Homo sapiens: one gene and its partner. The protein of the gene in region 2 purifies or fractionates together with the protein of the main gene of each other region. This does not show direct contact. Each region holds a gene or a part of one and is shown on either strand. Other genes may lie near its edges. The genes, in order: CLPX and EXD2.

The links.
Region 1: the proteins of EXD2 (region 2) and CLPX purify together in Homo sapiens (affinity purification with mass spectrometry; one large-scale study listed by BioGRID and IntAct). This does not show direct contact.

The regions. Positions count from the first base shown.
Region 1 is NC_000015.10:65,175,323-65,179,140, forward strand, and holds part of CLPX (ATP-dependent clpX-like chaperone, mitochondrial precursor), read right to left. Parts: intron 3,730-3,818; coding exon 3,612-3,729; intron 1-3,611. UniProt on the Homo sapiens protein: ATP-dependent chaperone that functions as an unfoldase.
Region 2 is NC_000014.9:69,190,154-69,194,408, reverse strand, and holds the start of EXD2 (exonuclease 3'-5' domain-containing protein 2), read right to left. Parts: upstream 2,912-4,255; 5' UTR 2,818-2,911; intron 2,639-2,817; exon of another isoform or gene 2,370-2,638; intron 1-2,369. UniProt on the Homo sapiens protein: Exonuclease that has both 3'-5' exoribonuclease and exodeoxyribonuclease activities, depending on the divalent metal cation used as cofactor.

The DNA of each region.
Region 1 (3,818 bases), on a different chromosome or scaffold from region 2:
TAAAAATACAAAAATTAGCCTGGCATGGTGGTGGGCACCTGTAATCCCAGCTACTTGGGAGGCTGCGGCTGAGGCACCTGAGGCTGGCACTTGAATCCAGGTGGCAGAAGTTGCAGTGAGCCAAGATCGCGCCACTGCACTCCAGCCTGGGTGAGAACAGTGAAACTCTGCCTCAGAAAAACAATAGAAACAAAAAACAAACAAAAAAACAGGCTGAGTTATCCCTTAACCAAAATGCACGGGACCAGAAGTGTTTCAGAGTTCAAATGTTTTCACGTTTTGGAATATTCACAGAAATACACTGGTTAAGCACCCCTACATGAAATCTGAAATCTGAAATGCTCCAATGGAGCATTTCCTTTAAGCGTCATGACGCACTCAAAAGGATTTCAGAGCATTTTGAATTCCAGATTTTCAGACTACGGATGCTCAACCTGTTAGTAACCTGAGATCAAATAAAACTCTCTTTAGGACTATGAAGACCCAACTTTTAATGATCAGACACAGAAGGATTCAAAAGGATGCATTCTGAAAAGACTTTTATTATGGGTACACAAAACTAAGGGAGGAGGGGCTCACTGCACTGCTAGGGCCTACAAATAGTTAGAGGACAGGGACAGTGTCATGATCATCTGCATATTTTCTGAGCCTAGTGATGTCTGAATCAACACATTTGCTATTAATTTTGCACATAAGTGTGTGCTCTTTTTTTCATTCTTTCCTTCTACATTTTCTACTCCCATATCACCACCCACAATTAGAATTCTCAAAGCAAACAGGCCTCAGCCTTGAATTGATTACACTAAAGTAGTGTTTCCACACTTGGTCTAACTAATAATATACATATACTACTAACATACAAATTCTAGGACTCCATCCCACATCTACAGAATCTTAATCTCTAGGGAAGGAGTTTGGGAATCTCTAAGTTTAACAGTCACCTTCAGTGACTAATACAACCTGGCAAGTTTTGGAAAGAATGCATAGAAGGAAAATAAATTTAATCCCAAGAGGAGCTAGTTTACTCCTAAAGTATCTCCAGATGGTAGAAATGTATGATATAGGAATTTCTGAATAGCAAATCTTCACTGCTATGTGACCTTGAATGAGTTACTTAAACTTGCTAAATCTCAGTTTATTTATAAAAAGGAGAATACTCTTTGTTCTGGCAAAATTAAGGGTGCAAGAATAAAACTATATATGTTGGCATTTATTAAATATTAGTTTCTTTCCTTTTCTACTCTAAGAAATTATTCTTTTTTCTTTTTTTTCTTTCTTTTTTTTTTTTTGGAGACGGAGTTTCACTCTTGTTTCCCAGGCTAGAGTGCAGTGGTGTGATCTCGGCTCACTGCAGCCTCCGCTTCCTAGGTTCAAGCAATTCTCCTGCCTCGGCTTCCTGAGTAGTTGGGATTACAGGTGCCCGCCACCACGCCCAGCTAATTTTGTATTTTTAGTAGAGACGGGGTTTCACCACGTTGGCCAGGCTGGTCTTGAACGCCTCACCTCTGGTGATCTGCCTACCTCAGCCTCCCATAGTGCTGGGATTACAGGTGTAAGCCACCGCGCCTGGCAACAAATTATTCTTTAGGTCTATAAAGGTTGAAATGTTTCTTTGAAGAAAAAAAAAGGAGGAAAATTTCTTGATTAAAATATAAGACACTGACCTTATAAATTGAACAATTTTCAGCCTCTGTATAATTTTATTATATCACATCAAATTTGTTTAGAAGGTTTTATCATCCAGTTCTACCTTTTTTTTTTGAGATGGAGTTTCACTCTGTCGCCCAGGCTGGAGAAGTGCAGTGGTGTGATTTTGGCTCACCATGACCTCCACCTCCCAGGTTCAAGAGATTCTCCTGTCTCAGCCTCCCGAACAGCTGGGACTTCAGATGCACGCCACCACGCCCGGCTAATTTTTGTATTTTTAGTAGAGATGGGGTTTCACCATATTGAGCAGGCTGGTCTCAAGCTCCTGACCTCAAGTGATCAGCCCGCCTCGGCCTCCCAAAGTCCTGTGATTACTGGTGTGAGCCACAGCGCCTGGCCCACTTTCATTTTATGTTGTGATCCAAATTAAATTTTGTTCAGAACCCCTAATATTCCAGCTATGGGATGGAGCTACTTTAAGTCTTTCCAGTACATAAAAACACACTACATCTAGTACCTTTTCATATGGTGGCCAATTATGGTTAATGGTAAGTGTGAAATTGTAACCAAAGTCTCAATATTAGGGTTAGGAGATAGAGAATACTCTCTAGCCAACCATCAGACACTGAAGTCTTACAATCTTGAAGCTTTCTTCAATTGGATTGTATAGGAAGGCTGACATGGTGGTACAATTCATTACCATTAACTCTAAATTATGTTAAGTAATGAGTTTTTTGATTATTTGATTCATTAATGAAAATATCTGTAGTAGAATCTTTGCATTTCAGAGAGTTACTGACACTAACAGCAAAAGTAGGATACATGATTTTTTTCCTTCTTTTTTTCTTTTTTTGAGACAGGTTCTTGCTTTGTCGCCGAGGCTGGAATTCAATGGCTGGCTCGCTGCTGCCTCACCTCCCAGGCTCAAGCGATCCTCCTACCTCAGCCCCTAAGTAGCTGGAACTATAGCCATGCACCACCATGCCTAGCTAATTTTATTTTTTTATACATATGGGGTTTTGCCATGTTGCTCAGGCTGGTTTTGAACTTCTGGGCTCAAGCACTCTGCCTACCTCAGCCTCTGAAAGTGCTGGGATTACAGGTGTGAGTCACTGTGCCCAGCCCTGATTTCTTCCTTCTCTGAGTGTCTGAATCATTAATAATTATCAGATGCTTCCCGGAATTGAGGGCTTACCTCCTTTGGTAAGTACTAAGGGAAATTACCTTAATATATGAATGACTGGCCTTCCCAGCCATGTGAGATATTCAATATGTATTTGAAGAAAGTAGTAATAAATACAGAATAAATAAGTCTTGGTTCTCCTATAGCCTAATGATCACATCCAGAAATTCACAAAATCTAATTTGAAATAAACACAAGTAAGCAAAATAAAGAAGCAAATGTTTTTCTTAAATTATCTCTTACACAACAGTGCAAAGTATTACCAGTCCTGAAGATTTTCTAGTATATAGTGAACATAAGAGAGAATCAGGTAAGCTCATACAATTTACATATAATTTATATAACATACAAAGTCACATACATTTATCTATTTCATATAATCCATATTTCTACACATTTAATACAATTTATATATATATATTTCTTTTTTTTGAGACAGGGTCTCTGTCACCCAGGATGGGGTACAGTGGCATGACCATGGCTCACTGCAGCCTCAACCTTCTTAAAAGAAGTAGCTAAGACCACAGGTATGCACCACCATACCTGGCTTTTTTTTTTTTTTTGGAAAGACAGGTGTCTCAACATGTTGCCCAGGCAGGTCTTGAACTCCTAGGCTCAAGGGATTCTCCCATCTCCTCCTTCCAAAGTGCTAGGATTATAGGCATAAGCCGTTTGCACCTGGCCTATATTTATACATTTTACATAATTTACATATTTTTATACACTTAGTAATTTACAGAAAATGTAGGGAAAAAAGAACAGTAGAAGATGTAATACTTACATACAAAGGTCTCTACATGTGTGCACAAGTCGCCACATTTAGGACAGCGCAGCTGGTTTCCACCTTTCCCAGAATTCCCAGAGCCTGATTTCTTACTACTTCCCTCACTTGCTGATTTCTAACGTTTATGAAGGAGAAAAAAGGAAGAGTGTCAATTATTAGTTTCAGGCAACCAACTTAAATGTAAACAATACTGTTTGTAATTAA
Region 2 (4,255 bases):
CCCAGCACTTTGGGAGGCCGAGGCAGGTGGATCACGAGGTCAGGAGATCGAGACCATCCTAGCAAACACGGTGAAACCCCATCTCTACTAAAAATACAAAAAATTAGCCAAGCGAGGTGGTGGGCGCCTGTAGTCCCAGCTACTTGGGAGGCTGAGGCAGGAGAATGGCATGAACTCGGGAGGCAGAGGTTGCAGTGAGCTGAGATCGCGCCACTGCACTCCAGCCTGGGCGACACAGCGAGACTCTGACTCAAAAAAAAAAAAAAGAATGGACTGACTGTTCGAGGTGACAGTATTTGGAAAACAACAATCACACACACACAATTCCAGAGGAATTAAAGAAAAAAAACTATTCCCACAAGAAGAACTTCAAGGAGAAAACAGAGCTTTAGGAGAAAACCCTCCTCTCTCTAAAAGTAGAGAAGGATTTTTCAACTTCAGCACAACTGACATTTTTGGCTGGTGAAATTCTTTGTTGTGGGAAGCTTTCCCGTGCGCTGTAGGATGTTTAGCAGCACCCTCGCTTTTACTCACTAGATAACCAATAGCAGCACCATCCTAGTGGAACAAACAAAAAATGTTTACAGACATTGCCAAATAACCCCGAGAGCAAAAATCTCTGCCATTTAAGAACCACTCGGATTGGGAATGATAGCCACAAAATACAAACACACACATAACAGACTGATAAATTAAAACCTAAAATTTTAAACTTTGTTTCAACAAAGATGCCATATAGTTAAAAGACAAGCAACAACTTAAAAAAGCAATAAGCAGGGAGTAAATATTATAAACACATATGAATAACAAAAGATCAAAATCCAGAACATATAAAATACTATTATAAATCAATAAGGAAAAGACAATCCAATAGAAAGAGATGTTTCTCAAAAGAGGAAATACAAATGGCTGACAATCATGAAGATGTTCAATCTCAATAGTAATCAGGGGAATGCAAATTAAAACAGCAAAGAGAAATCACTTTTCCATCCATCAGATTGGCAAAAACAAAAAAGATCGATACCATTAAATGATCAAAAGAGCATGGTGGGCCAGACACGGTGGCTCACGCCTGTAATCCCATCACTTCGGGAGGCCAAGGCAGGCGGATCACTCGAGTTTAGGAGTTTGAGACCAGCCTGGCAAATACGGTGAAACCCCGTCTCTACTAAAAATACAAAAATTAGCCAGGCGTGGTAGCGGGTGCCTGTAATACCAGCTACTCGGGAGGCTGAGGCAGGAGAATCGCTTGAACCTGGGAGGCAGAGGCTGCAGTGAGCTGAGATCACGCCACTGCACTCCAACCTGGGCAACAGAGCAAGACTCTGTCTCAAAAAAAAAAAAAAAAGAGAGAGAGAATGGAGGAAATTATTATCCACCGTGGGTGGCAGTTTGGCATTCCTAAATCCCCATACTCTCCCACCCAGCAATTCCACCTGCAGGTACCCATCCTTGAGAAATGCTCTCACATGGGCTCTCACAGAGGTGTGTGGGAAGGATGTTCTCCGCCATACTGTGTCTAACAATGAAAAACTGGAAACAATCTATGGAATCTTACATAACCATGGAATTTACAGAGCAAGTAGAAAGAATAGGTAGATCTCTAGGTACTGACAAAGAAAAAATTCCAAGACCCGTTTTTAAGCATAAAACGTCAAGTTGTGTAATGCATAAAACATGCATATTTGTAAAAGTTTAAAGCGAAATCTTACAAACATATATCTTATACGTACACATACTTGTCAAATAAATGCAAAGAAAAATACACACAAACTGACAACAGTTCTTATTTTGTGGGAAAGGGACTGGTAAAGAAGGTGGAGATGGAAAAAAACAAAATCAAAGAGGATCTGTCTTCCACACTCCCCACCCTCACCACCAAGAACATCAAGCTAAGAAAGATCTGTGTTTAAAATTTTTACATAATTTTGTTACAAGGCTTTATGCACGGACTATAACTAGAATATTTTAAAAATACATTTTTAAAACAAGCTCAACTTGACCAAATTTAATCCATCTTCCCCGCTGCGCCCCAACCCGCACTTCCTAATTCCTATGATTAACAAAACCTTTCAATTCCTTCTATCCTTGGAACAGAACTAAGAAAATAAAGTATAATTTCAATTTTGTGTTTTTGAGGAGAGGGTATATAAAGGAGTTTGAATGTTGGAATCATATCAAAAGCTTATCGGGGGATTGGTTTGTTTGTATTTTAAGGAGCAGATGTCAATTTTGTAATAAATAATGATTAAGGTTCTTAGTTTTGATCCATCCCAGGGATGTGAAAAGCCAAAGAGGTGGCTCCCGGCAAGGCCCAGAGCAGGGTGTGGTCTGGGAGGACAGGGATGGTAGCGAGGGTGGCGGCTCACACGAATCCAGGAGAGAAAACAGCAGCTGTTGCCGCGTCGAACCCGCAGCGCCCGAGGAGCTACCAGGTGCCGCGGGCGGGGCCTCCTTTTTAGCTGACTGGGACACGCAGCCTCGAAGGTCTGGTAGAGTCTCCCAGGGAGAGGGTAAGGGGGTCGAAAGGAGAGGCCCAAGGAGGGCGTGGGAGGCCGCGGGCAGGGGTGAGGCCCTCCTTGCGCACCTGGGTGCTGAACCGCCCCGCCGTGTGCGACGGGGGCGAGGGGGTCACGCCGAGGGGCGGGGAGAGGGGCAGGGCCAACTCGCTCCGGGACAGCGGGGGCCCCGCAATGTCACCCCCGTACACGGTAATATCCCCCCGCTCCACGACCCCTCTTAGTCTGCACTGGAAGCACCCCCTGCCCCGCGCACAATCCTGGTGCAAGGCTTCGCCGGCTTCTGAGCCTCACTTACCTGCTGTCTCGGACTGGGCCGCACACCTGCAGCGGGCTCACGTTAAAGACCTGGAACCTGTGCGGCCGCCTGCGCGCACCCACCCGGATTCACTAGGGCCGTAACCACTTCCGTTCCTGCGACAGGCCTGGAGGACGTAATCCCAGCTGGCGTGTGGGAACGGGCAACGCCATTTTGTACGGAAGCTACTGGGGCAGGTGATGCCTACCCAGTCTCTCTCCTCTGTTGAACAAAGGATCTGTTAAAATTGGAAGGGCTTAACGTCTTCTTCAGAAAAGTGACGCATTTGTTACTGGGATGGTATGTTTGTGTTTTGGTTTTGGCTTTGAAGGGAGAAACCTCCAGAACTCTCACAAATGTAATATGGGACATCGAATTTTCCTTCTTTAGTATCCTGCGTACTGTTTTTCTGCTAAACGATAACAGTAAATAGAAGGAAAGACACTGTATTTAAATAATGTAGTCTTCATTAGCAGTGCACATTATCCTATAGCCACTATAATAATTTTATGTACCCTCCTTTTTTTTTTTTTTTTTTTTTTTTGTAGATACTGTCTCCCTACATTGCCTAGGCTGGTCTCGAACTCCTGGGCTCAAGCGAACCTCACAACTCGGCCTCCCAAAGTGCTGGGATTACAGGCGTGAATGCCCAACCTATGCCATCTTTTATAGCGATAACCACAATACTTTTTGTTTATATATTAAATCGTTCATCCAATCAGTCTTTATTAGCAATTATATGTGAGGCAGTTAATCTGTGCTACATGCATGCTTTTCCTTTCTCATGGAATGTGTAAAACAGAAGGAGAAATGAGATGTGCATAAATAACCAATATAAGGTATAATAATAGCTACCATTTGTTGACTTTGTGCTCACCTGTTGCTAGGAACTTTGCAAAGCATTTTACTTATTTTTTCTCCTTTAATCCCCATAACAACCCTGTGAGGCAGTACTATTATTAGTGCCGTTTTACATAAAATAGAAAAAGGTTAAATAACTTCCTCAAGGTAATTCAGCAAGTAAGCACCGGAGTTAGGAATCAAACCTCATATTTCTGATTGCAGAGCATGTGGCCCCATCCTTTATACTATATTGCCTTCAATACAGGGGCAAATGTTTTAAATTCCATTGAATGAGTACCCATGGGGGAAATTTCCAGCTATTATAGAGGATTAACTCCCTGAATTTTTATCTGCTCCATCTTGAAACACTTAAAAAACAAAGGATAAAGAGGAAATGCAAATTAAAACCACAATGAGATATAGCTAAATGAAAAAGAAAATGTCAAGTATTGGCAAGATTGTGGAGCAACCACAACTCTCATATGCTCCTGAAGGGAACATAAATTGATGCAATCACTTTGTTTAACTGTTTGGCGGTATCAACTGAATCTGAATATGTGAAAAGACTTTGTTCCAACAATTTCACCCCTAGCTG